Linked DNA regions of Homo sapiens. The protein of the gene in region 1 interacts with the protein of each later gene in a biochemical or structural test. Each region holds a gene or a part of one and is shown in the gene's direction. Other genes may lie near its edges. The genes, in order: USP8, NFE2L2, GRAP2 and MAP3K7.

Region 1 (7,474 bases):
CGCCATTCTCCTGCCTCAGCCTCCCGAGTAGCATGTCACCAAGCCCAGCTAATTTTTGTATTTTTAGTAGAGATGGGGTTTCACCATGTTGGCCAGGATGATCTTGATCTCTTGACCTGTGATCCACCTGCCTCAACCTCCGAAAGTGCTGGAATTACAGGCGTGAGCCACCGCGCCTGACCCATTTCCAATTTCTTTAACCGTAATACTTTATGTTGTAATGGCATATTACAGTTTTCAAAGCATGTTTTTGTATATTTTTTCACTTGATACCTATGGTCACCCTATAGAAGCAGACAAATAGTTCCTATTTCATTTTGCAGATGAAAGTAAACTGAAGAGTGGTGGTGGTATTGGGAGTGATTTACGGAATTTGTTCAAAGTCATATGATTAATAAATGGAAAGTAAGGCCTGCAACAGTTCCATAATATTAAATTTATTAGTACTGAATGATGAAATATTATATTAAACTTATTTGGAATTCTACATTTATAGCCGTACTAATTTTTTTTTTTTTTTTTTTTTTGAGACGGAGTCTTGCTCTGTCTTCTAGGCTGGAGTGCAGTGGTGAGTTCTCGGCTCACTGAAATGTCCGCCTCCTGGGTTTAAGCAATTCTGCTTCAGCCTCCCGAGTAGCTGGGACTATAGGCACCTGCCACCATGCCCGGCTAATTTTTGTATTTTAGTAGAGATGGGGTTTTGCCATGTTGGCCAGGCTGGTCTTGAACTCCTGACCTCAGGTGATCTGCCCGCCTCAGCCTCCCAAAGTGCTGGGATTATAGCCGTGAGCCACCATACCTGGCCCTTTTTTTTTTTAAACTGAGACAAGGTCTTGCTCTGTCACCCAGGCTGGAGTGCAGTGGCATGACCTTGGCTCACTGTAACCTCTGCTTCCTGGGCTCAAGTGATCCTCCTGCCTCAGCCTCCCAAGTAGCTAGGACTGCAGGCACACGCCAGCACACCTGACTAATACCATACTAATTCAAGTAAAACAGTTCTCATGTATAGTGAATAAGGGTTAACTAAGCCTTGTCTCTTTTGACTAACACATTACAATTTAGTTTTTTGTTTGTTTGTTTTTGAGAGGGAGTCTTGCTCTGTCACCTAGGCTGGATGCAGTGGCATGATCTCGGCTCACTGCACCCTCCGTCTGATGGGTTCAAGCAATTCTCCTGCCTCAGCCTCCCAAGTAGCTGGGATCACAGGCATATGCCGCCACGCCCAGCTAATTTTTTGTGTTTTAGTAGAGATGGGGTTTCACTGTGTTGCCCAGGCTGGTCACGAACTCCTGAGCTCAGGCAATCCACCTGCCTCGGCCTCCCAAAGTGCTGGGATTACAGGCGTTAGCTACCACGCCGGGCCTACAATTTAGTTTTTAATAATGCAGCAGTCTTCCTCTTATCTGCAGGGGATATGTTTCAAGACCTCCAATGAATGCCTGAAACCACAGATAGTACTGAACCCTATATATACTATGTTTTCCCTATATATACATTTTTATGATAAAGTTTAACTTATAAATTAGTAACAAGAGATTAACAACAATAACTAATAATAAAATAGAATAATTACAACAATATAGTGTAATAAAAGTTATGCCCTGTGGCCATAACTTGTGCAACTTGAGGTGTGACAGCAAAACTAGCACAAATTTCTTTTTCCTTCATAATTTTGCAGATAAAAGATCTTACCATAGATCTTAGCAACCTCAGCATGAGGTTTTTGGTTTTTTTTCTTATTAGGTTGAGAACTTTCACCTTTTTGCTTAAAGGAAGCAGTTTACAACTTCTTTTTGACATACGTGAATCTCTGCTTTTACACTTTGAAGCCATGATTAAGTAAAATGAGGGTTACTTGAACACAAGCACTGTAATACTGCTATAGTCAGTCTGGTAACTGAGACGGCCACTTAGTGATTAACAGGCAGGTAGCATCTACAGTGTGGATACACTGGACAAAGGGATGATTCATGTCACAGACTGGGCGAAGTGAGGTGGTGCACAATTTAAAACTTATGAATTGTTTATTTCTGGAATTTTTTATTTAATATTCTTGGACTGTGGTTGACTGCAAGTAGCTGAAACCATGGAAAGCGAAACCATGGATAAGGGGGGACTACTACACTAAATTCTGAAACATACCAATAATGGTGTAAACCCACATGTCTTTTTAATAGAGTAAAATGAAATAATTACACATTATAATACCAATTTCAGAACAAGAGTTATGGGCATAAGCATCCTGGAGGTGTTTTTTTTTTTTTTTTTGGAGGTGTTATTTTAATTTCTCAATTACAGAGTTTTAAAAATGAAAATGATTTTTTAAAATTTTGGTAGGTTGAATGATTTAAGATGCTGATTTCAGCTGGAAACAAATTGTTGCCTTCATATTATTTTGTTGCTCCTAGCAGCATGTTTATATTCATTCTTATATTGATGGTTCCCAGTCTTGACTGGTGTTAGAATTCATTTGGGAAGCTTTTTAAAAATACCTATGTGGGCAAGGCGAGGTTGGCTCATGCCTGTAATCCCAGCACTTTGGGAGACCTAGGCAGGAGGATCACTTGAGCCCAAGAGTTTGAGACTATCCTGGACAACATAGTGAGACTCTGTATTTTTTTAAATATATAAATAAGAAAATAAATACCTGTGTGTATGTCTCATCCATAGAGATTCTGATTTAATTGTTTAGGAGTGGGATCTGAGCATCAATATTTTTTTAAAGTTCTCTAGGTAACTGATTCTAACATACAGCTGGGATTGAGAACTATGTTTTTGGTGCATGTTAAGTACGATCTGGCTCCCTACTTAATGATTTTGCATCTGTTAAAAAATTAATGAGGTAGAAGACAAAAGAAATGGATTAAAGTTATAAATGTAGATAGACATCTATTCTGGAAAACAGTTACCCTTTTGTTAGTTTCTGGGAATGGTCCTTAATAAAACAAACAGACATTGGCCTGGTTTGCTAAGTGCCTATATCACAGCATTAAGCCACACTTTACTTTGTTACCGTTATGTACTTAACTTTCATTTTAAGAGGCAGAAACTTTATTAAGAGTTGTATTTTTTTAGTATCCCCTGTATCACAACACTGCACCTTGTGTATAGTAGGTATCTATTGTTTACCTAATTGAAGCCAGTTTAGACAGTCACTCTTTAGAACTAGGGCTAGTTCAGCTCCTTGGGAGGCTGAGGCAAGAGAATCGCTTGAACCGGGGAGGTGGAGGTTTTGGTGAGCCGAGATTGCGCCACTGCTCTCCAGCCTGGACAGCAGAGTGAGACGTCATCTCAAAAAAATAAAGAACTAGGGCTAGTTTATTCTTTTCTTTTCTTTTTTTCTCATGGCATTCTAAGACTCCCCCAATTAGACAGGGTCTCCCTCTATTGCTCAGGCTGGAGTGCAATGGTGTAATCATGGTTCATTGCAAGCTCAACCTCCCAGGCTCAAGGAAGGCCTCAGCCTTCCGAGAAGCTGGGACCACAGGCGCATGCCACCATGCCCTGCTAATTTTTTATTTTTTTATTTTTTTTTTGTAGTGATAAGGTCTCACTGTGTTGCCCAGCAGTTCACCAAATCCTAGATAACATAATTTTGGTGTCAATACTTAATTATCTTCCAAAACAATAGGGATTATCAAAGTCAACATTGATGCCTTATTAGTTGATAAACAGATTTAATATCTGTCTGCTCTCACATATAACTGATTTCTAGTTAATATTTACATCTTAAGATGTTCCTTTGGCATACACTCAACATTTTCCACATCGAATTACCTACTTTGCTGTAAACCAGTGGTTCTTGTTGGGGGTAATTTTGCCTTCCAGGACACATTCGGCAATGACTGTAGACAGTTTTGGTTGTTACAACTGGAAGGGAAGGATGATAGTAAACTGGCGTCTAGTAGAGGTTAGGGATGCTGCTAAACATCCTGCAGTGCACATTGCACAGAGCAGCCTCTCACAACAAATGTTTATCTGGTCCAAAATGTGAGTGATGGCAAGGTTGAGAAACGCTGCTGTAAACTGATCAGTTTTAAACTGCAGTATTACTTTTTTTGTTAATAGCACTACTGCTCTTCATATTTTGCAGGGTACAGTGTGTGTGCCTCTGTGTGTGTGTGTGTGTGTGTGTGTAAGCAAGAGAAAATACTGTTTCGATCAACCAGTTACCAAAGCATGTTTCTACCATTTTGTGTTCTTTTCTGCAGTGACCTTGTAGTTACTCTTTTCCATAGTATCATTCCCTTGTTCTCATCTCCTTTCAATCTTACTTACATATCCCTAATTTGACCATCTTGAGATAATATTTTTCCCATCAGGAACTGGCTTTTATTGCCTGCTGAATCAAATATAAAGAATTCTGGATGGCTTCCAAAGTCTTCCATAATGTGACTCCATCTCCTACATAATATAATTTAGTTATTCTTGTTAGTCAACATTTTTTTTTCCTTTTAGTTAAATTCAGCTGACAGGGAGAAACATTTATTAAAGTGGTGACTATGTGAGGACTATTGAGATAGGTGCCAGGGATCCAAAGACATGTCAACATTTTCCCTCTATCCGATTGATTATTTCCCAATAACTTCTGTAATATTCCTTATTATTACTATTTTTTCCGAGATGGAGTTTCACTCTTGTTGCCCAGGCTGGAGTGCAGTGGTGCGATCTTGGCTCACTGCAACCTCTGCCCCCTGGGTTCAAGAGATTCTCCTGCCTCAGCCTCCTGAGTAGGTGGAATTACAGGCGTCCACCACCATGCCCAGCTAATTTGGTATTTTTAGTAGAGACGGGGTTTCTCCATATTGGTCAGGCTGGTCTTGAACTTCTGACCTCAGGTGATCTGCCTGCCTCAGCCTCCCAAAGTGCTGGGATTACAGGTGTCAGCCACCATGCCCAGCCAGATGTCCTCCTTTCTTACCCTGTTCTTAGCTAAATTCTGTCCTCAAGGCCAGGTTCTCTCTCTCATCACATCATCATGAGCACTGCGTGTGTATGAGGATTTTAAAGCCTTATAGTAATTGTCTGTTGATCCCATTACTGTATTTAAGGAATGATATAGATCACAAGCATTGTAGGATTCACATGAAGAAACAAATTCCAAGAACTGGGACCATAAAGGATGGAAGAGATGGAACTTAAGTTTGTTTCTTCTTGTAGCTGAGACCTCAGATGTGCACCACTACGCCCAGCTAATTTTTAAATTTTTTGTAAAATTTTTTGTCTTTACTTTGTTGCCCACTTTGTTGGCTACCTACCATTTCTCCCTATCTCTGCCCTTTAGGCAACAACAATACTCAACATAAATATCTGTTCTTGAACTCCTGGGCTCAAGCAGTCCTCCCACCTCAGTCTCCCAGAGTGTTGGGATTACAGCTGTGAGGCACCACGCCCAGTCAGTGCACTGCTTTTTGCATGGAGAAAGTCTTGCTGCTACTTTAAAAAGGTCAGTGTGCTTAATTGATCTACATTCTGTCACAAACTTCTTATTTTATCACAAACTGATAACAAACAGTTCCCCAATCAGCACTGGTCATTGGACCATACTTGGAGTTACATTGCTGTAGTGTGAGACTTTCATACTTTTTTTAAAATTGTCACCTGTATTAAGAAATACATTTTACATTTTCATCCAGTGTTATATCATATACACATGTACATAACTGAAACAATTTTACGAAGCAGTACCTAACCTTACTATGTGTGACATAGTCTGATGTTTGCTATTTTTTTAATGCTGATCATGACCTTCTAATGGATTTTAAAAACACTGCCCTCAAGCATTTAGCACAGTGCTAGAGACATAGTAGTTGCTCAGAAAATACCATACATTTTAGCAGTGATTAAATCTTGAGAGGGTTGAGCCTTCTTAATACTTGAGGATTACTTTAAAATGTTATTTCATTGGCCGGGCACGATGGCTCACGCCTGTAATCCCACCACTTTGGGAGGCCGAGGCGGGCGGATCACCTGAGGTCAGGAGTTCGAGACCAGCCTGGCCAACATGGAGAAACCCTGTCTCTACTAAAATACAAAAATTAGTGGGGCATGGTGGCGGGGCGCCTGTAATCTCAGTTACTTGGGAGGCTGAGGCTGCTTGAATCTGGGAAGTGGAGGTTGCAGTGAGCCAAGTTCATGCCACTGCACTCCAGCTTGGGCGACAGAGTGAGACTCCGTCTCCAAAAAAAAAAAAAGTTATTTAATCAATACTTAGTTGTTTGTGGCACCTTATACAGAACGAGTGTAGAGTGGATTATGAGATTTAAGACAGCGAGAAGATACTTATGTTGAGTATTGTTGCTGCCTAAGGGCAGAAATAGAGAGAGATGGTGGGTGACCAACAAAGACAACTTTTGCTTTCCTTTCAATATTGCCAAAGACCTTAGGAGTGGCTGGTGTGAATCCCTGCTTAAAATCAGGACCAGTTTGAATGACTGCAAACCTCATTTTTCACTTTTTACCTTTTAGTCTTCACTTTGTGGTTCCAGTCATCAAATCCCTACTCTTTGTCTTAGAAAGGAGCAGAAGGATGTCAGAGAAAGAACATTTTCTCTTTATTTATTTATTTTTTTTTGAGATGGAGTCTCTGTTGCCCAGGCTGCAGTGCAGTGGCGCGATCTCAGCTCACTGCAAGCTCCACCTCCCAGGTTCGTGCCATTCTCCTGCCTCAGCCTCCTGAGTAGCTGGGACTACAGGTGCCCGCCACCGTGCCCGGCTAATTTTTTGTCTTTTTAGTAGAGACGGGGTTTCACCGTGTTAGCCAGGATGGTCTTGATCTCCTGACCTCGTGATCCGCCCGCCTTGGCCTCCCAAAGTGTTGGGATTACAGGCGTGAGCCACTGTGCACGGCTGCATTTTCTCTTTGTTAACTCATTTTCAACACTTTTGGGTTTCACTTTTGGAGCACTGCTGTTTGACTAAGGCTGAAGTTCTTTGTCAGGTTTACACATCTTAAGAATTTTTATTTTTTGTTGTTAGAAGCATGTTAATTTTTCTTGCATATACTTAGTTATTTTTTTTTCACTTGCAATCCTTCTTGAAGCATAAGGTTTTTTGTTTTGTTTTGTTTTGTTTTGTTTTGTTTTAAAAGACAGAGTCTTGCTCTGTCGCCCAGACTCCGCTCACTGCAATCTTCACCTCCTGGGTTCAAGCGATTTTTCTGCCTCAGCCTCCTGAATAGCTGGGATTACAGGTGTGCGCCACCACGTCCGGCTAATTTTTGTATTTTTAGTAGAGATGAGGTTTCACCATGTTGGCCAGGCTGGTCTCAAACTCCCGACCTCAAGCAGTCCACCTGCCTCAGCCTCCCGAAGTGCTAGGATTACAGGCCTGAGCCACCACGCCCGGCTGCATTTTCTCTTTGTTAACTCATTTTCAACACTTTTGGATTTCACTTTTGGAGCACTGCTGTTTGACTAAGGCTGAAGTTCTTTATCTTTGTCAGGTTTACACGTCTTAAGAATTTTTATTTTTT
Region 2 (7,380 bases), on another chromosome or scaffold:
TACAGGCATGCACCACCATGCCAAGCTAATTTTGTATTTTTAGTAGAGACAGGGTTTCTCCATGTTGGTCAGGCTGATCTCAAACTCCCGACCTCAGGTGATCCGCCCACCTTGGCCTCCCTGGGATTATAGGTGTGAGCCACCGCGCCTGGCCTATACTGGAGTTTAGTTTATCCACTGGGCAGGTTGCTCAAGTTCAAACTCCCTAAGCAGATATTCAGCGAGTATCTTACATAACTGGCACAAATGAGGTCATATCACGGTCAGAACCTCTGTATGCATTTATCCCTCCATCTACTTCATTGATAAAATGTCTGTGTTCGTGAAGTGTATTTTGATAAGGAGACTATCTCTCCATCGTCTAATAAAATGAAACTTATGCATGGTGTGATGAGGTTTTTTACTTTGTATGTAGCAACAAAGATATGTTATGGGAAAGACAGCTTCCTCATTCCCAGGGAAGTCATTTTCTTCTGAGAGTCTGAGTTTTATTAAATCACCAAGTATCATCTCCCTGTTTGTGCTCCCAATGTTGGTTAACAAACAAAGAGCAGCCAGGGGAAACCCTGCCTTTGATAGTCACCATACATACAGTATGCTGTTTTGGTTATCAATTGCTATGAAACAAACCACCCCCAAATTTAATAGCTGAAAGTGATTTATTATAATTTCTCACAGTTCTTGGTGTTGACTTAGCTTAGCCAGGGAGTCTTCTGCCGGTCTTGCTTACAGTCTCTTGTATGTGACTGCAGTCATATAGCAGCTGGAGCTGGAGTTCTTTGGGGGCTTGAATAGGTGGGCTCGAAGGTCCAAGATGGTTTCTTCATTCACATGTCTGGTGTGTTGGTTCACATAGTCTCTCTCTCTCCATTTAGAGTTTCATCTTCCATGACTTTTCCCATGGCCTCTCTTTCCATCAAGGTAGTCAGACCTCTTAGGATGATGGCTGACTTCCAAGAGTATAAAATTAAAAGCTGTCAGGGCTTTTTCAAGCTTAGGTTAAAACCTGGCATAATGTCACTTCTGGCCTCTTTCCATACCTTAAAGCAAGTTGCAGGGCCAGCCATGCTTGTTTCAATATGAGGGGACTAGACAAATGCCTCAATATCAGGAGAGGTGGTTTACTGGGTGCCATCTTTGGAAGCTTTCTATACTTTACACTGGACAAAGTAGAATTTCAACTACAATTCTAAAAGATTATGAATATTTTCTGGCTCAAACATGGAGAACAATTGAGAGGAAGTGACAGAGAGAGGAAGAAGCCTCAAAGTGATGGAGGATTTTGAAACAATCGGTACTTTCTTGCACCTTGCAACTTGGCAGATTGGAGCACAAAGGAGGTGGAACTAAGGGGTCAATGCATCACCATTATCCAGACTTCTTATACCCAGAAGACTTACTTGATGATACTTTTTTTTTAGACAGAGTCTCACTCTGTCGCCAGGCTGGAGTGCAGTGGCGTGATCTCGGCTCACTGCAACCTCCGCCTCCTGGGTTCAAGCAATTCTCCTGCCTCAGCCTCCCTGAGTAGCTGGGACTACAGGCGCATGCCACCACAACCAGCTAATTTTTGTATTTTTTAGTAGAGACAGGGTTTCACCACGTTGGCCAGGATGGTTTTGATCTCTTGACCTCGTGATCCGCCAGCCTCGGCCTCCCAAAGTGCTGGGATTATAGGCGTTAGCCAGAGCACCTGGCCAATGATGCTTATTTTTTATGAGCAATCTGGAGCAAGGTATCACAATTGACACATCTCAAGCATGTAGGGAAGGCCGTCTTCCCAAAGACAGCAAATGATTCAGGAATCAATGAAAAGGTACAAGAGTCAATAGAACATAAAACCAATTGGAGGGTATTTTTCCCAAATAGTAGCGAGGAGAGCCTGGCAGCAAAAAAGGATCCCATGGCAGCAAGACAGGAGAGAAAAACCAGCACCTCCTCTTTCTTGTTCTTTCTTGCTCCTCCAGAGCTTCTCAACATGCATTATCTGTGCCCTCCTAACACAATAGGCAGGTTTGGAGGGCAAAGCAAGGGCTCAGGCTCTCATATGAAGACAATCACATTCCAGAGTCTGCCAAGATTGGGCACCTCCTTGACGTGGGTGGTCTTGAGAATGGGGTTCCCTTTATTTGGCTAAACCAAATGCCAAACAGCTTTTCCTTAGTGTTTGTTTTTCTTAAACAAGTTCAAACTCTTATCATATTGCTCCCCTCCCTTTGAAAATATGTACTCTGCAGATGCCTGAAATAACACACTCTCAGCAAATTGCAGCATTGGAAAAGTGAAGGTTATTTCATTCAGTCTAAACTCAATGGAAATTTTGTGGCTTAACAAGGAAATACCAAATACTTTATAAACTCCTTTAGAGCAGTAACCATGTCATATGACTCTGGTATCTCCTACCTACTAGGCTCATTGTCTACCTTCTCTGATGTCGTAATTTTAATAAGTAACTTGAATTGTTAACAATTTACTCTTGTCTTTTTCTTGGACTCAGAAATGTTATTTTATTATTATGTCTCTGCATCTTTCATGTGAGGTCCTTTGCAAACAGTTTTCTCCTAACTTGTTTTCATTGTGCAGATCATGTTGCAGGGTTTTCACATAACAGCTGAAAGGAATTAATAGGAGTTAAAGAAGCTTGCTTCAATTACAAGTAATTAATTTAGGCTTCACTTATCTCAAGGAATATCTGAATATACAAATTTACACATAAATCCTGGGAGTGTCAAATTATGCAACCTAGAGAAAGTAAGCTCTGCAGCTTTTTGGGCGTTGATTGCTATAGTCAGGGGTGTGTGTGTGGTTTTTGAATGAAATAGCAAAACCACTGCCAGTATTATCTACTTCACCTGGTTTTGAATAATTCCAGGAAGCTAGAAACTGAAAACCAGTCTTGTATAGAGTTAGAAAGATTGTAAATGCAGAAGAGGAAGAAAAAAACAAAACTAAACCATTTATCTATCCTCTTTGAACCCTTATAAGAGTTCACAATATTCCTCGTTTCAAATACTTGAAGTCTTCTCTGGGCAATGATTAATTTTTAAATAATTGTTTTTAATGTAAGACATAAAACATACGCACTGCAGATTTAAAGCATACTTGGAAGTAACAAGGAGAAACATAAAAATCGTTGATTCCACAGCATTTAATATATTGGTAACCTTCAATTTTTTTCTAGGCACGTTTTTATAAAATGAGCCAATACTATACAAACGTTTTTGTAACTTTTTTTAATTTGTACTATTTTGTGAGTACGTGAAAAAGAAATTTGTAAAGAGTAAACGATTACAGCATGTTGTGGTATTACACACTGTTGAAGGGCGCCATCTGTGGCGTGGTGGCTGCGCTTTGGTGGGAAGAGGTTCTCTTGGGGTTCCCGTTTTTCTCCCAGCTCTGGGTGGGCAATACTGACCACTCTCCGACCTAAAGGGGCTTCTCCGTTTGCCTTTGACGACCTGAGCTTAGGAGAATGGAGACACGTGGGAGTTCAGAGGAGGGCGTTCAGGGTGACTGCGAACACGAGCTGCCGGAGCTGTCCACATCTCCCCTAGGCAGGGCCCACTGGCCCCAGCCCGGGAAGGGAGCAAGGGCGGGAGGGCAGTTGGCAGTGGCACGGTCTGGGTCCAAATCTTTAGCCCCCCCCACCCCGGCTGGCGCCATTCTCGGGCGGTAAAGTGAGATAAAAGCAGGGCAAGGTTCTGCAACTCCAAATCAGGGAGGCGCAGCTCCTACACCAACGCCTTTCCGGGGCTCCGGGTGTGTTTGTTCCAACTGTTTAAACTGTTTCAAAGCGTCCGAACTCCAGCGACCTTCGCAAACAACTCTTTATCTCGCGGGCGAGAGCGCTGCCCTTATTTGCGGGGGAGGGCAAACTGAACGCCGGCACCGGGGAGCTAACGGAGACCTCCTCTAGGTCCCCCGCCTGCTGGGACCCCAGCTGGCAGTCCCTTCCCGCCCCCGGACCGCGAGCTTCTTGCGTCAGCCCCGGCGCGGGTGGGGGATTTTCGGAAGCTCAGCCCGCGCGGCCGGCGGGGGAAGGAAGGGCCCGGACTCTTGCCCCGCCCTTGTGGGGCGGGAGGCGGAGCGGGGCAGGGGCCCGCCGGCGTGTAGCCGATTACCGAGTGCCGGGGAGCCCGGAGGAGCCGCCGACGCAGCCGCCACCGCCGCCGCCGCCGCCACCAGAGCCGCCCTGTCCGCGCCGCGCCTCGGCAGCCGGAACAGGGCCGCCGTCGGGGAGCCCCAACACACGGTCCACAGCTCATCATGATGGACTTGGAGCTGCCGCCGCCGGGACTCCCGTCCCAGCAGGTGCTGCCTCGGCCCTCTGGGCCCTGCGGTGGTGCCGGGACGGGGGCGGGGGAGCTAGGGAACCGCGGCCCGGGAGGGACAGCCGCAACCGGCTTCCCCCACGTCTGGCCAGAGCCAGGACCGCGGCGCTGGGTAGAGCCGCCGCGCTTGCGCCGGGGCAGGGCGGGGAGGGGCAGCGGGGACGCGGCCGGGTGATCCGACCGACCACGAGCCCGAGGGCGAACGGGTGGGAAGTTGCGGGAAGGTCTGGGGACTGAGCCCGCTCGCGTGGGCCTTGGGGGAGAATCCAGCCGCGTCCCCGGGCCCGAGAGCTGGGACTCCGGAGCCCCTAAGTTTGAGCGGCCCGGTGGGCGGCGGGGCAAGAGGGGGCGGACGCTGGCCGTCTGAGCCGGCGCGGCCCGGCCCTTCCGGGGCTGCGCGGCTCCCCCGCCTCGGTGCCGGCAAAAATGTGCCTAGTCACGGGGCCGCTCTCGGGGGAACTGAGGTCGCCTTCGGGCTGGGACCCGGAGCCCCTTCGCCGCGCCCCAAGACCTCCTTGAGTGCGGGCTGCGACGCGCTCACCCCGCTGGGCCGTCTGTGGGCGCGGCTTTGCGAAGTCATCCATCTCTCGGATCACTCTCTGGCAGCCTTGAGCTCTCTTGAAAGCCCAGCCCCGGGACGAGGGAGGAGCGCCTTAAGTGCCCAGCGGGCTCAGAAGCCCCGACGTGTGGCGGCTGAGCCGGGCCCCGCGCACTTTCTCGGCCGGGGAGGGGTTCGGGCTCGGGCACCCGGAGTTGGCCCCTCGTAACGCCGCGGGAAAGTGCGGGCGAGGGCAGTGGACTCTGAGGCCGGAGTCGGCGGCACCCGGGGCTTCTAGTTCGGACGCGGTGCCCCCTGGTGGCGCTCACCGCGCGCGTGGCCTTGGCTTCCGTGACAGCGCTCGGTTGGCCGTCACAGCAGCCCTCGGTTGGCCCTTTCCTGCTTTATAGCGTGCAAACCTCGCCGCGCCAGGGCCAAGGGACAGGTTGGAGCTGTTGATCTGTTGCGCAATTGCTATTTTCCCCAGAGCGGCTTTGTCTTTGGATTTAGCGTTTCAGAATTGCAATTCCAAAATGTGTAAGACGGGATATTCTCTTCTGTGCTGTCAAGGGTAAGAGTTGCGAGTGTAGATTAGAATTTCTGTTGCTTTTAGTCTGTTAGTAATTTTTTGCTTTCAGCTATTATTTCTCCCCTGAGTACTTTATATATGTTTCCTTTTCAGTTGAGAATTTGCCTCAATTTCTTAACATGTTCCCCCTCTTCTGCAGGGGCAGAGAGTGGAACGCTTGCGTTTCAAAACACTTGCTAATTTCTGTGAATTGTTATAAAAGTGAAAAGAAGTTTCTGCTCATCCTTTGTAGAAACTTTAAAAGTAGATATTTATATTTCTAACTTCTTTTGTAAATGAATTTTAGGAAAAAAATTGGAATTCAAGGAAATGTGTACTTGATGTACAGTAAATACGTTTATGCTGTTAAATGTAAAGTTTTCGGTTAATTCCAAAGATCTATTGTAAAGTTTTAAGTTATGGACAATGTATTAATTGTGCTTTTTTCCCCCTTTAAAGTTGTTTGTCTTGAACTTTTCCCCAGTCTTCATTGGGATTGTATTCTTCTGGTTCCAACTAGTGAAGAATTAAATTGTACCTTCCGATTTATTTAATAGCTGCTGTTCAAGAGTTATCTATAGGAATGCTTGTTTGACTGAAGGATATATGATAAAAATGAACTTTAGTTTTTCTGATTTCCGGAATTGTCTACAGCCCTCTATTATTTTTGAATTTTTCTTTCTTTGCTGTGTAATATAACATTCCTTATACAAAAATGCGTGAAACATATGTACCGCATTAAGTGTGTATTTTCCAATTACGTTTGATAAAAATAACTGCTTTTCTACCTTTGTAATCAGACATCGATTTGCATATTTGAAAACAGAAAAAGAACAAGAAAATTTAGAATTGATTTTGTTTATGATTCATATTAGATTGTTGTCATCCATAAAGATTTGAACAGAGTCAAACATTTTCTTGACCTTTTGTCAAAAAAAACTCTCCAGGTGTGAAGTGGTAGTAGGATATAGTTTTTCACCTTCTGTGCAGAGGATGTGTTGATAAACAGGGCAGTAAGGAGAGCCTTAGATTCAGTATCTCCATTAGGTGGAAGGAACCATCCATTACTCTTTTCAAGGGTGTCTTGGAGAGATAAAGCACTTTCCTAGATGAGGGATGAAGTTGATATTGAAATAGACCGATGAGATTATTTTTAAGTCAAACAAAAGAAAAATAGGACAGGCCTCTCATCTCCTGAATGAATGTTAAGCAAAGAACAACTTGACTTTTTAGATATGTGAAAAATCTCTTGAGAGGTTGTGGAAGCAGCATGTAGGAGGATAAATGCATAACTCACATCAGTCTTTTACGCATTAAAAATAACTTGGGCCATTTTGAAATCTTTCTTTCTTGCCCTGGGTTCTTATAAGCAATGTTGGGGGGAAAACTGACTCTGTCTTTAGGATTACCAGGAAAAGTTGAAAGCCAAATGCATCATTTTTCTTAATATTTGTTTTTATTGAGGATAAATCATGTTTAACAAAGCTGCATGAAAAAAAGGAACCCAACAAGTACATTTTTTTTTCTGGGAATTTCCTCTGTCCTGACTGAAGACATTTAAAGGGGGTTTTGTGTCAATATTTCCTCCTTAACTGTTCCTCAAGCCTGGGTTAACTTTTCAGTATGCAGGAAGAATTTGGCACTAAGATAATAATAGATAAGTTACTGGGCACGTCCCTGGGTGCCAGACATAATTGCTTCACATGCATAATTTTACAGTAACCTCACGGGAAATATTATTATCCCTGGTTTCCAGGTTGGGAAAACCAGGCATAATAGTTAGATCAGGCATTAGGTTAGGAAAGGTTAGGAGAGAGGCATAGAGAAAGGCCAGGACCTGCTAAGGTGACCATACTATTGAGTGGCCAAGGTAGCATTCAAACAGGTTTGACTCCTGGGGGCTTCTAATCACCACTTCCAGACTGTACCAAAACTCCTTAAAC
Region 3 (7,474 bases), on another chromosome or scaffold:
TCCTGTTTAACAAATAAGCATTTTACAAACATTTATCGATCAATTACTATATGCCAGGCCTGGCACTAGGCACCAAGTCCTCTTCAACAGTGTTAACATTAAGTTTCAATAAACTTGAGTCAGTAGGAATTCAGTAAATAATTTTTAAAGATTGTTTTCTTTTTAAATATGTATTTATAAACAAAAATTTTAGAGAATTAAAAGAAACTATCACGAAGTGCATGATGATAAAAGTCTTATATACTCTCCAAAGAAAATGTTAAGACATACCTTAAGGAGATAGTGAAGAACAGCCGGGCACAGTGGCTCACACCTGTAATCCCAGCACTTGGGCGGCCAAAGCAGGCAGATCATCTGAGGTCAGGAGTTGGAGACAAGCCTGGCCAACATGTTGAAACCCTGTCTCTACCAAAATACAAAAATTAGCCGGGCATGATGGCAGGCGCCTGTAATCCCAGCTACTTGGGAGACTGAGGCACGAGAATTGCTTGAACCCGGGAGGCAGATGTTTCAGCGAGCTGAGATCGTGCCACTGCACTCCAGCCTGGTCGACAGAGCAAGATCCTGTCTCAAAAAGAGGAAAAAAGAAAAGAAAAGAAAAGATAGTGAGAAAATAACTGAACATAAAACATAAAGAAAAGTTGAAATATTAGTACTCACTACCTAGGTTCAACAATTGCTAACTCTTTGCCGTATTTGCTCCATCTATACCTATTTCTTTCTGAATTACTTGTAAGTTGCAGATAAAATAATACTTCACTCCTAAATAATTCAGTACTCATCTAAGAATAAAGGCATTCCTCTATCTAACCACAATTCCATCATTAGGCCTAAGAGGATAAACAGTAAGTCCTTAATATCATCTGATAGCTAGTGCAGATTTAACCTTCCCCATTTGTCCCCCAAATGTCTTCTATACCATTTTTTAAAAAAAGAATCTAATTTTTAAAAATAAGAACATATTTTGCAGTTGGGTCTCATGCTTCTTTCTTCAACATTGGATGTTTTTAAAGATTACGCCAGTTCTCTTGTACCAGGTCCCACTTTCTGAATTCGTTGTTGCCTCATGGTTAATTTGTTCCTCTACCCACTTTATTTCTCATAAGCTCCAAGTTAGGACTAAAAGCATGATTTGATTTTGATTGAACGTTTTTTGCAAGGTGCCACTGGGTGCTCCATATTGCATCTTATCAGGAGGTACAGAATGCCAGGTTGTTCCACTGTGCATGATGCCAAGTTTGATCAGGGCTTGAGGTAGTGATCTTGCTCAGAGGATCTCTTGTTGTACAGGCACTTTTTCACCCTTTGCAATTAGCGAGTACTCTCAGGGGGTATCTCAAAGTGTATCTCATAAACACTTTGGCATGGTGGCAATATCCTATTTCCCAACAAACTCTCACCCGGTGACTTTAGGTAATAATCTTTGCCTAAATTGATTATTTCATTGGAGTTCATATATATTTTTAATACGCTTTGAAGATGGACTCGACATGCAAATTCATCATTATCAGCAGCAATAGTGGCTGGAAATATTTATTGAGTGCATAAGTTCAGGTAATAATAATAATAGTAGGTAATGTTTATTGAGTGCTTGCTGTGGAGCCAAGACAGCCTCGGTGTGAGCCCAGTCTTTCACTTACTAAGCGAATGAACTGGGACGAGTTATTCTTTTTGTGCTTCAGTTTCTTAAGCTATAAAATGGGATTACTAATGGTGCCTATCTCGTGGGATTGTTCTGAAGAGTAAACGATTTATACATTTAAGGTTCCTAAAACAGTGCCTGTTATTATTGTTATTTGCCAAGCATTGTTCTAATACTTTGTAGGTACTAACTCGTCTACTTCTTCTAATGGTGCAATGAAGAAAGTGCTAATAATACCCTTTTTTCACAATGAGGAAACTGAGGTACGGAGAGGTCTAGTACGTTGCACAAGGTCACTTAACTAGTACCTGGTGGAGCCAGGATTTGAACCCAGGCTGTCTGGTTCCTGAGCACTCTCTCTGATGATGGGCACATGCAGTGAGGAGTGATACAAGTGGAGCTGAGTGGAAGTAGCCCTCACACACACTCAGACTTGAAGTTATTGAAAATCCGGGAGGTTGCCACCCAAACACATTTAAGGTTTAATTCATCTGAATAAGAACAGCATTCCACTAAGCCCAGATAAGTACTCTTATTACATTTACATAGCTTAAGGCTCTGTACAAGAAACCTTGAACATAAAATACTTGGAACAGAAAAGAGTAGGAGAACTATGAAGTAATGGGGGGAAAAAATCCCTGAAAGGAACAATACAAGCGGGGAGTTATGAGACCTGGGACCTCAGAGCCTCGGGGTGGAAGATGATATTTTGATATAATCAGGAGGGAGAAATTTCCTCTCATTTTTCACATTTCTGTACTATATAAGATTTTACCATAAAACGCAAGAGTATAAGCCATTGTCAGATTTATAAAAGGCCATGGTGGATTTCCTTAAGAGACGATGGATGACTGTTGTTAGTAGGTAAATTCCCTGGTTGGTTATCTCATACACTCAGATATTCCATAAGTCAGCCTGTGGCTTCTGAAACTGTATTGAGAAAAAGCTGTATAAACTAGGTGTTGGTCCATGCTCCTTCATTAGCATTACAAAAGGGTTCGACTGCTGAGTTGAATCTTATCCACTCCTTCAGTGGCCATTACAGAAAGCTCTCAAGTGTAATTTTCTAAAGAGAACTAAAAATAAATAAGAAAAAAAAAATCCAGCATTAATAATGGTTCTTTTTGCATTTCCAACACAGTCATTGCCAAATTGGTTCTGCCTTTTTATGTTTTTTAATGAAAAGCAGCCTAATTGATCAATTGGTCATGAATAATACTTCTTCGTTTGTTTTTCTCCACACCCCCCAGCCTTCTAGAACCACGGGCTTAATGTGTCGGCCTACAAATGGTTCATGATTTGTGTTTTTTGTCTAGTGCTTTATGGGAAAATATTAGAAACAAACTGCTGAGAACTCAGTAGGAACTCAGTAAATAATAAGTAGATAGTTCTCTTGTTAAATATGATTTTAAAGAAACTCTTTCTAAATAACTAGGAAATATTACAAGGGAAGTACAAAGTGGGGTGGAAAGCCTGGCTGACTTGTAATTTGAAATTTCTCTTCATCATTTTATAGGTCACACAGTTTAACCCTTTATAAAACAAAATGTAAAGTCTGATAGCTGAAAAGGCTCTCCTCCGCTAAATAGATTTGTTTGAAAATATAGATCATTAAATCGGTAAGAATAACAGGAGAATCTCAACCAAACATTGAGACAACTAAGAAAATTGTCTAAATCTAATACCTTATATCAGTACTTTAAGTTGACCATAAATACGCTGATATCCATAGCACATAGGTTCTTACTGGCAGTGGTGGGGTGGGTGGGGGAAGGGGAGTGTCACAGACACATTCAAGATGTCAACGAAAACTATGAAAACTCTCCCCAATGGGGAAAAAAAACCAACGATGCCTAGCACTTATCCTACGCAACTTTGTACAGAATTTCCGTGGGAAATTCTGGTGTCCATCCATCATAAATCACCTGGTGTCCACCCATATATCCTGAATAGGAAAAATTGTCTTTCTCTAGAGTTATTGTACACTGATCCTGATGGAGCTTTAAAAAGAGTTGTCGTACAGGCTCATTGACTTTGGGAGGACAAGGTGGGAGGATTGCTTGAGCGCAGGAGATTGAGACCAGCCTGGGCAACATGGTGAGGCCCCATCTCTACAAGATATTCTTTTAAAAAATTAGCCAGGCCCAGTGGCCCGCACCTGTAGTCCAAGTTACTCCAGAGGCTGAGGCAGGAGGATCCCTTGAGCCCAAGAGATCAAGGCTGCAGTAAGCCGTGTTCACACCGCTACACTCCAGCCTGGGCAACAGAGTGAGATCCTGTCTCAAAAAATAAATAAGTAAATAAAAAGAGTTGCCATTATCTTGTTTGATCTGGCTATGATCTTTGAGGTAGACAGACCACAGATTTTACCTCTCATTCTGCAGAGTGGGAAAAGCAAGGCTTGGAGAGTTTCCGGGACTTGCTCAAGGTAATTTGCTAATGTCTGCCGGGACGTAGCACCAAGCCTGTCACGCTGTAGGCTGGGCCCCTTCCACAACACTGGTCCAAACACAGGATTCTGGAGATGCAGGAGCCCTCGATGGGCTTCTGGAAAGCTGAATTCTGGCTCTACCAGAGCTACCCACGTGATCTTAAACAAGTCACCTAACTTCCCTGAGCTTCAGTTTCTTCCTTAGTCAAGTGAGAGGTTAGACTGTGTGTTCTCTGAAGCCCTTTGATTTTCTGCAGAAAACCACCTAATCCCACTGGGTCTGGGAACAGAGGGAAATGACCTTTTCTGCCATAGATGGCAAGACCCTTCACCCTTCCCTGTAGGGCATAAGAGCTGGCATCCAATTCTTAACGGATTCCCTTGCAATGTCCAAATCCCATTAGAAACTACAAACATCTCAATAGTGCCTTTGTGGGCTGCTTGGGTGTCATGCCGCTGGCTGCCTCACTTGCTGCAGGGCTGACTGTCCACATCAATTATACTCCAACCCTGTGCTCTGCAATGGGCAGACATCCCATGAGATTTTATTACCCCTCTTGGGTAGTTCAGGGAGTCATATGGAAGTAAATAATGCTGATGGGCTTATTTTGGGCTGATAGATCCTTATCCTTCTAAAGAGGTTATGCCTTTCAAAGGGTACAAAACCTTCTCCTTGATTTTTTATTACGAACAGTTATATCCTTTAATGTCCCAGAATTGTTCTTGGAAGTTGGAGACTCACAAGAGGGCCTGCAGCTGTGAATGCAGAAGTCCTGAGACTAGGGGAGGACATCACCACTCTCCCTTGGCCTTTGGAGTCATCCAAGCTAAGTGCTAATATTTGTGATTAACAGGTGTTGATAGGAAATTGGGCCCCTGTGTCTCAGTCTTTTTGTGCTTCAAATTTTCTAAGTGAACTTCAGGCTGGCAAGTGGAGTTAGATCAACTTGTTGCAGACAGTATCATCTGCTCGGTACCGTGTCAGGTCACTGGACTGTGGGAGGTTATACTGACCAGTGATGAGAGTGACAGAGCATGAGCTTGGCTCCCGTATCCTGTGTTCTGTGCTCAGCCTCACAGATGACTCACTGTGCCTCATCGACTCCTCTGTCCTCGAGTGAAATTATGCCATTCTTTAACCCACTATACAAGAGACTTTTGAAGATTCATGTGTGGCTACCCCCAACAATATCTCATTTGTACAATGCAGAACATGGTGCTTTCTTGTGTAAACAAACTCATTTTGTGGAATTTTTATTTTCTAGATCAATATTTTTAAATAGACTACTAATTCATTTTATAAACCGGGTACTATAAGATTTTATGAGTTGACACTTGGTACCCTGTAAGTATCCAAATAATCAAAGAAGGAGAAAGTGTGAAGTCAAGGAATCCCCTAGCTGAAAAGAAATTCCCAATACCTGGAACAAAAAAGATGGAGCTTTTAGAGAGCAGACTTTTTCTCCAGCAAAGATCCACAACTTCCATTTTTAAATGTAAGACGTAAGGGAGATTTATGATACAGCCTACTTTGTCAGATCATATTATTTCATAAAGTGAAGGGTCAATTAGGTGTTATTATTATCAAGAAAGCATGCTGTAATGCTTCGTCTTGTAGATGCTGTAAAAATTACCTGTCTGATTACTTTAATTCATCTTTTGGCTACTGTCTGCAGAAATTCACTCAGTCCCTAGCTCACAGGTATGCAGACGTACTGAGAACACTTTGGGAAATAAAAGCAAAAAAAACATTGGGTCCTTTCCCCTAAGGAATGAACAGTGTATTTGGGAAACTAGGAAAAACAAACAAACAAAAAAATGGTACCACAATGCAAAACTGATGAGGAGATTAAAAAACAGCTCAAGATGGAGATTTTTAGAAAGAACTTCTTGAAGGAGGTGCATCTGTAGGCTGAGAGAGATGGTTTAGCAAGCAGGCATCAATGCATCCACAAAGCTTTACACTTCAAGGAAATCATAGGAGAAACAGGGTCTTCTTTGCTGAAGATCTGTTTATTTTGCAAACAACAAAGAGTCAGAAGAGCCATGTGAAGTTTCCATGGGGAATCCAGAAACTAAACTTCTGCCACTGGAAATTACCTCAAGATCTTTTCCCAGATAGCCTGCTCTTCCCCTGCTTCCAATCATGTCCCTCAAAGTCTTCTTTTTCAAGCATAAATATCCTTAGTTCTTGTAACCACTCCTCCTATGAGGCAGTTTTGCGTGCTGCCATTATTTTAAGCACCCGCCTCTGATTGGACTCTAGCTTAGGGCCTCCCCTAAGTCACGGGACTCAGAACGGAGCAACGCTCTCCAGGAGTGATCTGAGGATGCAGAACACCATGGGGTAGTTGCCTCCCTTGATCTGTAGCCTATACTTCTATTAATATGGCCCATGATTGCATGAGCCCTTTTGGCACCCATGTCACACTGCTGACTCATATCGAAATTGTGGTCAACTAAAACCCATGAGTTCCCATGCACTACTACTAAGCCAGATCTTTCTTTCTTTTTCTTTTCTTTTTTTCTTTTTTTTTGAGACCAAGTCTCGCTCTGTCGCCCAGGCTGGAGTGCAGTGGCGCAATCTCGGCTCACTGCAACCTCTGCCTCGTGAGTTCAAGTGATTCTCCTGCCTCAGCCTCCCGAGTAGCTGGGATTACAGGCGCCCGCCACCACGCCCGGCTAATTTTTGTATTTTTAGTAGAGACGGGGTTTCACCATGTTGGTCAGGCTGGTCTTGAACTCCTGACATTGTGATCCGCCTGCCTCGGCCTCGCAAAGTGCTGGGATTACAGGCATGAGCCACCATGCCCAGCCAGATCTTTCTTATTCTGTACTTACACTGTTGATTTAAAAAAAAAAAAAAACCCTAGGACAGAGGTTTAAATGTAAAGACATTTATTTCTATTTCACTCGATCATTTTGATAACAACTTGTCCAAATCTTTCAGAGCTAGGGTATTAGCTTCCCCTCCCTGCAGGTGAGTACTTACCTGCTGGTGCAGCTAATCTCATGATGGATCTCTGGCCTCTAAAGGGCCAGAACTTCATTGTCTCTTTCCTATCCATAAATTCTCTGCAACCGTGGATGAATCTGCATCCTTAGACAAACTAGTGGGCCTCAATCTTCCTAAGTAAGATAGGAATAAGTGTGAATGGCCATTTCCTCCTTGCGGTGAGGATATGCGACAATGAGTTCGATGTCTGCAAAACCCTAAGGAAATGTCACTCAGAGGCAGCATTAGATGAGGAGAGAAAAAGTTTATTTCAGGCTCTCAGCAGCTTTCAGAAGACTTGATTATCCTGATCACTACGTGTGAAAGTTAATGACTTCATTTTTGCAGTTATTTTAAAAATATAACTGGTTTATCTGATTTTTGGTTGTAGTAACATCACGTGATG
Region 4 (7,474 bases), on another chromosome or scaffold:
GAAGGGAATGCATACTCAAAGAATATGAGATAGTAACAAGTGTTGTGTTTGAGGGGTCAGAAAAGAGAGTTTGCCTTAATTTAACCAAACCAACATGAGCTTTGACATTCAGGAGAAGCAATTAGATTTGATTAGCAATTGAAACACACACACACACACACACACACACACACGCAAAAAACTTTCATTAAATAATCTTCCGATCTGTGACCAATTATTGCTAGTAGAGATTGGAAGTTCAATATCAATTTAGTGTAAAGTGAGAAAGTGAAATCCCACTTCTTTTTTTAGAGAGAAGATGAAATTCAATGAAGGACCTTAAGTTCCCCACCATACAAGGGCTTTAATTATTTGAATAACACAATCCTTGGACTTTTTTTCTGCTCCCAGAATACCACGCAACACTGATGTATTAAGCTTAATTCTAAAATACATATCAGATACAGGGTGCTGATATAATGAGATATATAATGTATCAGTGATTTAAGAAAGAATAATAGGAATGGAAATCTTAAATTGAAACTTTTTCAAGACACTTAAATTTTTCTAGTAAATCAGGAGGAAATCAGTCATTTTTAATCAGTTTTAGTTTTGTGGAAAGCAGTGTTTATGTGGGAGCGTAGTTTGAAACCACTGTTGGGGTGGGAGAAGAGTTGGTCAGAGAAATAACAAATTAAGTATATTTCTTGTTTAGCCACTTCAGAAAAACACACATTTATGTTAGTACTGTATATGAGCCTTAAGGGTAAGGGTAAGTGCCTTAAGTCTCTACTGTTTTTCTGTATTGCCCTGCAATATTTAATAAACATTACTTTTTCAATATGGAATTCATACTATACTATTTTAAATTGTTCTTTCTAATTCTCCATTTAGTATGAATAATAATGATAACTACCGTCATGTATTGAGTGCTTAATATACGCCAGGATTTGCATGGTGTTCCTCACATGCACTGGCTCATTTGGTCTGATTTCGCTAATTAGCTTTTGGAGTTTCTTGAGAGCACGTTCTCAGTGGCTTTAAAAAAACAAAAACAAAAGCAAAAAGAAAAAAAAACACCTGGATTATCAGTTGACAATAAATTAGAAGATTACTGAGCCAGCAACCCTTCTTGAGTTTTTTTGGATTGCATACAGTGCGTCTGCTGTCTTCCTGACTTGCCTTTATCCACACCACTCCTTCAAGGAGTTATTCGTCAGAAAAAGGCTGAAGAGCTCACTCATTTAGCTCTTTTTTTGTCTACTAACAGTGGGAAAGCAACTACTTCTGAAGTAGAAAAGTCTGTATTGCTTCAGAGTTACTCTGTTTACTTCTGGAACTGTTCTACATAACCATAAATGTTGAGAAGAGACTGTCCCACGCATCTCAGTCAAGTTGTATGGCAGTTTTACCTCTTTTGAAATATAAACAAAAGCATTCTATTCAAATAATTTTATAAAATTGACTGATTGTTTGAATTAATCAACTTAACTGTTTTCGGCATGACATTGAGCCACAGGTTTCAACCTCATTTTGGTTCCTTACTGTTCGTATTTGTAATATACTCTCATCACCAACATCTCGTTTTCTGCAGTGATTCTTACTGGGAAGGGCAGGATGAGTGGTGGAGGTCACATTATAATCTATATAAATTGAAAATGATCCACTGGAAGAGAATGTGTCTCTGCTTTCTCCCTTTCCCTGTTAAGGAACATTGATATTAGCGGAGTTGATATAGCCTTCTATAAAATAAACTTAGCATGATAAAGAAAAGAGATGGGGAGTTTGATTAGATAGGGTCAATTAAGACTGAATTTAAAATATAAAGGTCTCATCACTGTTTTTGTTTTTAATTAAGAGCTTAGAAGCTCTAATATATTGTGTTCTATTCAGTTTATAGCCAACTTAAATTATAGGTATGAGAATATAATTGCATTCTAATATCTGATAATTGAATATCCTTTTTTTAACCTTTAGAATTCAGAAATAGACTCTTCAATTACCAATAGCTGTAACTTTTAATTTACATATTATTTACTTTAGGGAAAAAAAGCATTTCATTCATGCTTTCTTGCTGTTCGTTTATAATTATTTGTGACAGAAAATCAATAAAATACATGCTTGAATTCCAGATACCAATGGATCAGATAACTCCATCCCAATGGCTTATCTTACACTGGATCACCAACTACAGGTAAAGGAGTACTTTCTTATTGAAAGTTGACTTTTTTCTTCTTAGAGAGTTTAAGTTGACAATTGTGTTGCTACCTGTCATTGTATAGTCACTCCTTAATTTATCCTTTTAGTTGGCCTCCTTAAACTTTTTAGAATCAAATCAAAATAATTCTTTTGGTTAAGTTAATCAAACTTTAAATTGGCAGAATCATATTCTTATCTTTTCAGTCATCTTAAAATCCTCCAGTATCTTTCTTTAGTACTGCTAAGCATTACATTTTCACTCTTTAATTTTAGTGCATTAAAACAAAACTCATAAGCTTATTTCTATTTAATACATTTGTGATACATTCTCATGTTCATAGTGACTGAAAATGTAAATAATATACTTCAGTGCCCCCTCATGAGTATGAGGGCTATAAACATCATTTAGTTTGAGCCTGTTTGCAGCCTGAAATGTCATACCAGAGACTACAACTCCAACAATCATGATTCTCTGTAACAGACTGTTAAAACAGCAAGAATAGATTTAAATGCTGAGTTAATTCTGACAAAAGGACACTGAGATTTTCTAGGGCATGGTTTAACACTTATTTTTAAAAGATCATTGCTTTAGTGCTATAAAAATATATCACAGTCTCTGTCTTGACTCTCATCTTAGCTAGATATTGAAATTTGATTTAATTATGTTTTAACATTCCTGATTATTTTCAGCCTCTAGCACCGTGCCCAAACTCCAAAGAATCTATGGCAGTGTTTGAACAGCATTGTAAAATGGCACAAGAATATATGAAAGTTCAAACAGAAATTGCATTGTTATTACAGAGAAAGTAAGTTATTTTTTATGAATAAAAATAAAAATACATTAGTATTTTGAGTTTAAAATATGATAAGGTGCAATGAAAACGTAGTTTTTAGAATTAGTCATTAAGTATACTTTCAACTTGTTTAAGCTTTAAGCACCCTTTTACTAAAAATTTTTTATGCAAAACTCAATCCTTTTGACTATCATATTAGTGCTATGGAAAATAAACTGGTGCTTTATACTTGTTGTTTTATGTTCTCAGAGCTGTTTAGACTTATTATTATAAAGATTTATTGTTTTCTTGTAAATAGATAAAATAATTTGATTTATTAACATTCAGTTGTGCCTTATCTTAGAAACATTTTTGTAGATACATTTTTTCCAGGTGTATGTTTAGAATTGGATTACTTATTAAAAGACTGTATTTCATAACTGAGTGTTTTTCTGAGGAGTTATAGAAACTGCCTTCCTCCCTTTTTAAAGAAACACAGCCTAATTTCCTTACTACTGCATTCACAGTTCTTAAATATGTATGTATCTTCAGTTTTCTTAAGCATGACCTCCATGAAATTTTATACTTAGGTAACTGAATTGTTGGTGGTAACTAAAATGAAGTGATAAGGAAAAAATTTTGGCAACTTTATATATGTATGATAATAGGATTCCCTTCATTAATTTTAATCTAAATAAATGAAAGTTGTTTTTTTCTGAATTTGCGAAAAGCTTTCTGTATGTACTTCAAAAAAAAGAGAGAAAAAATTGTTTTATCATAATTTATTGATACAGTGATTTAAATGGAACCAACCTGGTATTTGAAAGGTAAGCCTAAATAGGAAATTAAATACTACAGTTTGGAAATCGTAGAAGTAATTATCAAACTGCTGGCACTTTTATGTTGAAAAAGCTTGATTTCTTATTTCACTTATTTAACCTATACTTTTGCCATACTTTAATCATTTGAAAGAAGTATTCTATGCTGGAAAAAACAAATGGTGGATTAGGGTGTTGGCTGTGAAAACTATGACAGTTTTAATCAATTTTAAATACTTTCAGAAGTAGTATTAGTTAGTTATTTTGCTTGAGGACTTTTTATTAATTATTCATTTATATCCAGTAACCTCACTTTAGGAAATGCCTAAAGATGCATCTTTTTCGGGAATACTTAATAGTTCCCAAATAAGAGGGACTTAAATAAGTTTATCAGACTATAAAAGAATGAGGGTCTTTCCTGAAAGTGCTTGCAAATGTAAGTGTTTTAAAAGAAGTGGTACTTTGTCATTTTTCTCACTGCTTTAAAATGGGAAAAAGCTTTAAATTGGATAGCATTTATTTTAATTAGATTGCAAATTTGCTATTAGCTTACCACTCTCTGCTATAGTTAAGTAGGATTGTGACTTCAGAATGTGAATCAGTATAAAAGTAGAATGTGAAGGATAAAAACTTCATGATATTTTCCCATAGCCACATAGAACCCTTCCCAGCCTTTTTTCATCCTTCCTACACAAAAAGAGGATAGAAAATGAAATTTTCTGAAACTTTTATTTTACCATTTTATCTGCTTCGCTAATTATCCAAGTACAGTTACTTAATAAAAGGATTATGTTATTTGTATGATTACACTAGAAGTAGATGAGAGTTCCATCCCAGCCCATAATTATATTTGATTAGTGTACCTAAGATGCAAAATGATAAACCAAGAATAAAAATTCTCATTAATTGAGCTTCCATCATCAGCTACTAAGGTATGAATTTTTCCATCATGTGTAATATTATGTGGTATTTGTTTGTAGGCAAGAACTAGTTGCAGAACTGGACCAGGATGAAAAGGACCAGCAAAATACATCTCGCCTGGTACAGGAACATAAAAAGCTTTTAGATGAAAACAAAAGCCTTTCTACTTACTACCAGCAATGCAAAAAACAACTAGAGGTCATCAGAAGTCAGCAGCAGAAACGACAAGGCACTTCATGATTCTCTGGGACCGTTACATTTTGAAATATGCAAAGAAAGACTTTTTTTTTAAGGAAAGGAAAACCTTATAATGACGATTCATGAGTGTTAGCTTTTTGGCGTGTTCTGAATGCCAACTGCCTATATTTGCTGCATTTTTTTCATTGTTTATTTTCCTTTTCTCATGGTGGACATACAATTTTACTGTTTCATTGCATAACATGGTAGCATCTGTGACTTGAATGAGCAGCACTTTGCAACTTCAAAACAGATGCAGTGAACTGTGGCTGTATATGCATGCTCATTGTGTGAAGGCTAGCCTAACAGAACAGGAGGTATCAAACTAGCTGCTATGTGCAAACAGCGTCCATTTTTTCATATTAGAGGTGGAACCTCAAGAATGACTTTATTCTTGTATCTCATCTCAAAATATTAATAATTTTTTTCCCAAAAGATGGTATATACCAAGTTAAAGACAGGGTATTATAAATTTAGAGTGATTGGTGGTATATTACGGAAATACGGAACCTTTAGGGATAGTTCCGTGTAAGGGCTTTGATGCCAGCATCCTTGGATCAGTACTGAACTCAGTTCCATCCGTAAAATATGTAAAGGTAAGTGGCAGCTGCTCTATTTAATGAAAGCAGTTTTACCGGATTTTGTTAGACTAAAATTTGATTGTGATACATTGAACAAAATGGAACTCATTTTTTTTTAAGGAGTAAAGATTTTTAATTCTGTGATTGTGTGTATGTGTGTTGAAACTGTAAAGCTTTTATGACTCTAATATTAATCTCTTAAATGAAATTAAAAGGCAAAAGAACATGATTGAGCTTAAATGATCATTTCTTCCTGCAGTGATTCTTGGATTGTTTTCTCATGTATTTGAAAAAAAAAAAATGAAGAAAAATAATGGAAAATGGAAGTAATTACTCCAGCTAAAAAAAGCTTGGACTTAGATTTCTTTTTATGATACCAAATGAGAAATAAACCAGGCAAATCAGAAGGAAGTTAAAGAAGCAAATATAAATTCAACAAGTGTCCTAATTATCCTGGATATTGGAATATTTGATTTTCCTTACAATCCCGTTCTAGAATGCCTGCCGCCTTTCAACACTTTCAAGAGAATTTCAACACTTACAGAGTATTTATATTGTTAACAGTAATTTTGCTACCAAAACCTTCAGAATAACTTTAATAATAAAATGACACTGAAATAATAGACTATACAAACTCTATATTTTTTCAGTTGGTGTTAAAATAAGTCACATTTTGATACCAGTACAAGATGTCTTTTAAATAAGGATGTCATCAGTCTGATTTTTATAGCATTAATGTTTTATGAAGAAAAAGTTCAAAATGAAAGCATTAATTGCTGTGATTATTAGAATTCTATCATGACTGTATTGTAGTTTTTGCTCTATTTCAGATAAGCAAGATCTAAGAAGTTATCAAAACTATTCTTTAAAATGCTAAAGCAGGTAACTTTTTCTTCCATTATTTTTTCCTCCTACCACTGAGTTTTGTAATGAATTCCTTGTGTATACAAGCAATACAGGTGAATACTAAACTGTTATTTTTAGCTTCTTCAAAAGCTATTTTAGAAAGCTTCCTGGAAATAAATGTCTTCTGTCATTTAATTTAAATAAAAGGAGTGTTAATTGTTCCCAAATTTGATTACCTAGCTGAAACAGATATTGGATTCAGCATAGTAATAGTAAAATAAAATTGGCAGAGAAAATAACTGTAGACTAGGATAAAGCATGACTCCTCCATAGCATTGTTGCTTGTATGTACATCTGTCACTCCACTGAAAGGGACCTAGTCACTTTAAAGAGGCCTTTTATCTCAGCACGAGATATCCAAGCGTGAATGCTAAGGCTTGATGTTTCCATTAGGATTTAGCATTCGAGATTTCAGATTTTATTTATAGTCATTGATGTGTTTTGCTGTATTATAACACATTTAAGGGAAATTTTATTATGGTTTTTACATGTAGTCATTTCATAAAAATATCCAGATAGGTAAATGGAAGAAAATAGTAGATTTTAGTCATGGTACCAAATGCAAGAGGCTGTTGAACAGTTGCTTGTTTGTTTACAGTAAGTTCCTTGAGATTTTCAGTACTGTAGTTGCCCTGGACATTGAGTACAGTTCAGCCTTACTCTGTTTTTAAGTAGTTGTGTTGTCAATTTCATGCTTTTAAGTCCTGATGATCCTTGGAGATGGGAGAAAAAGATACCAGGGATAATTAAAATCCACAGCCAGTTTCATCAGTTTCCTCATCCATCCTGCAAATAAAAATGTTAACAAGGAGCCAAACTTATTCGTTCTGGTTTTACAATTTATTTTGACCGTTTTTTGGGTGAAAATTGCAAACAGCCAAGCAAGTGGCTGGAATGCCCCAGTCTAAGAAATTCAAAAACAATCACTGAGTAAGCCCTAATTACATTAATTACATTTTACTCTTGACTCCAGGAAAAGAAAGCAAGCTTTTATCTAATCTAGAGGGAAGTATTCGTGAGCAATAAAAATCACTTTTTTGAGTTGAATAATAATCAGTTA

What was found.
Region 2: the proteins of USP8 (region 1) and NFE2L2 form a complex in vitro, tested with the Homo sapiens proteins (one study listed by BioGRID).
Region 3: the proteins of USP8 (region 1) and GRAP2 form a complex in vitro, tested with the Homo sapiens proteins (one study listed by BioGRID).
Region 4: the proteins of USP8 (region 1) and MAP3K7 form a complex in vitro, tested with the Homo sapiens proteins (one study listed by BioGRID).

Annotation. Positions count from the first base shown.
Region 1 is NC_000015.10:50,427,054-50,434,527, forward strand, and holds part of USP8 (ubiquitin carboxyl-terminal hydrolase 8), read left to right. Parts: intron 1-7,474. UniProt on the Homo sapiens protein: Hydrolase that can remove conjugated ubiquitin from proteins and therefore plays an important regulatory role at the level of protein turnover by preventing degradation. Converts both 'Lys-48' an 'Lys-63'-linked ubiquitin chains.
Region 2 is NC_000002.12:177,261,463-177,268,842, reverse strand, and holds the start of NFE2L2 (nuclear factor erythroid 2-related factor 2), read left to right. Parts: upstream 1-4,115; 5' UTR 4,116-4,266; coding exon 4,267-4,311; intron 4,312-4,711; exon of another isoform or gene 4,712-5,440; intron 5,441-7,380.
Region 3 is NC_000022.11:39,903,817-39,911,290, forward strand, and holds part of GRAP2 (GRB2-related adapter protein 2), read left to right. Parts: intron 1-7,474. UniProt on the Homo sapiens protein: Interacts with SLP-76 to regulate NF-AT activation. Binds to tyrosine-phosphorylated shc.
Region 4 is NC_000006.12:90,513,957-90,521,430, reverse strand, and holds part of MAP3K7 (mitogen-activated protein kinase kinase kinase 7), read left to right. Parts: intron 1-2,111; coding exon 2,112-2,173; intron 2,174-2,868; coding exon 2,869-2,984; intron 2,985-4,749; coding exon 4,750-4,930; 3' UTR 4,931-7,474. UniProt on the Homo sapiens protein: Serine/threonine kinase which acts as an essential component of the MAP kinase signal transduction pathway. Plays an important role in the cascades of cellular responses evoked by changes in the environment.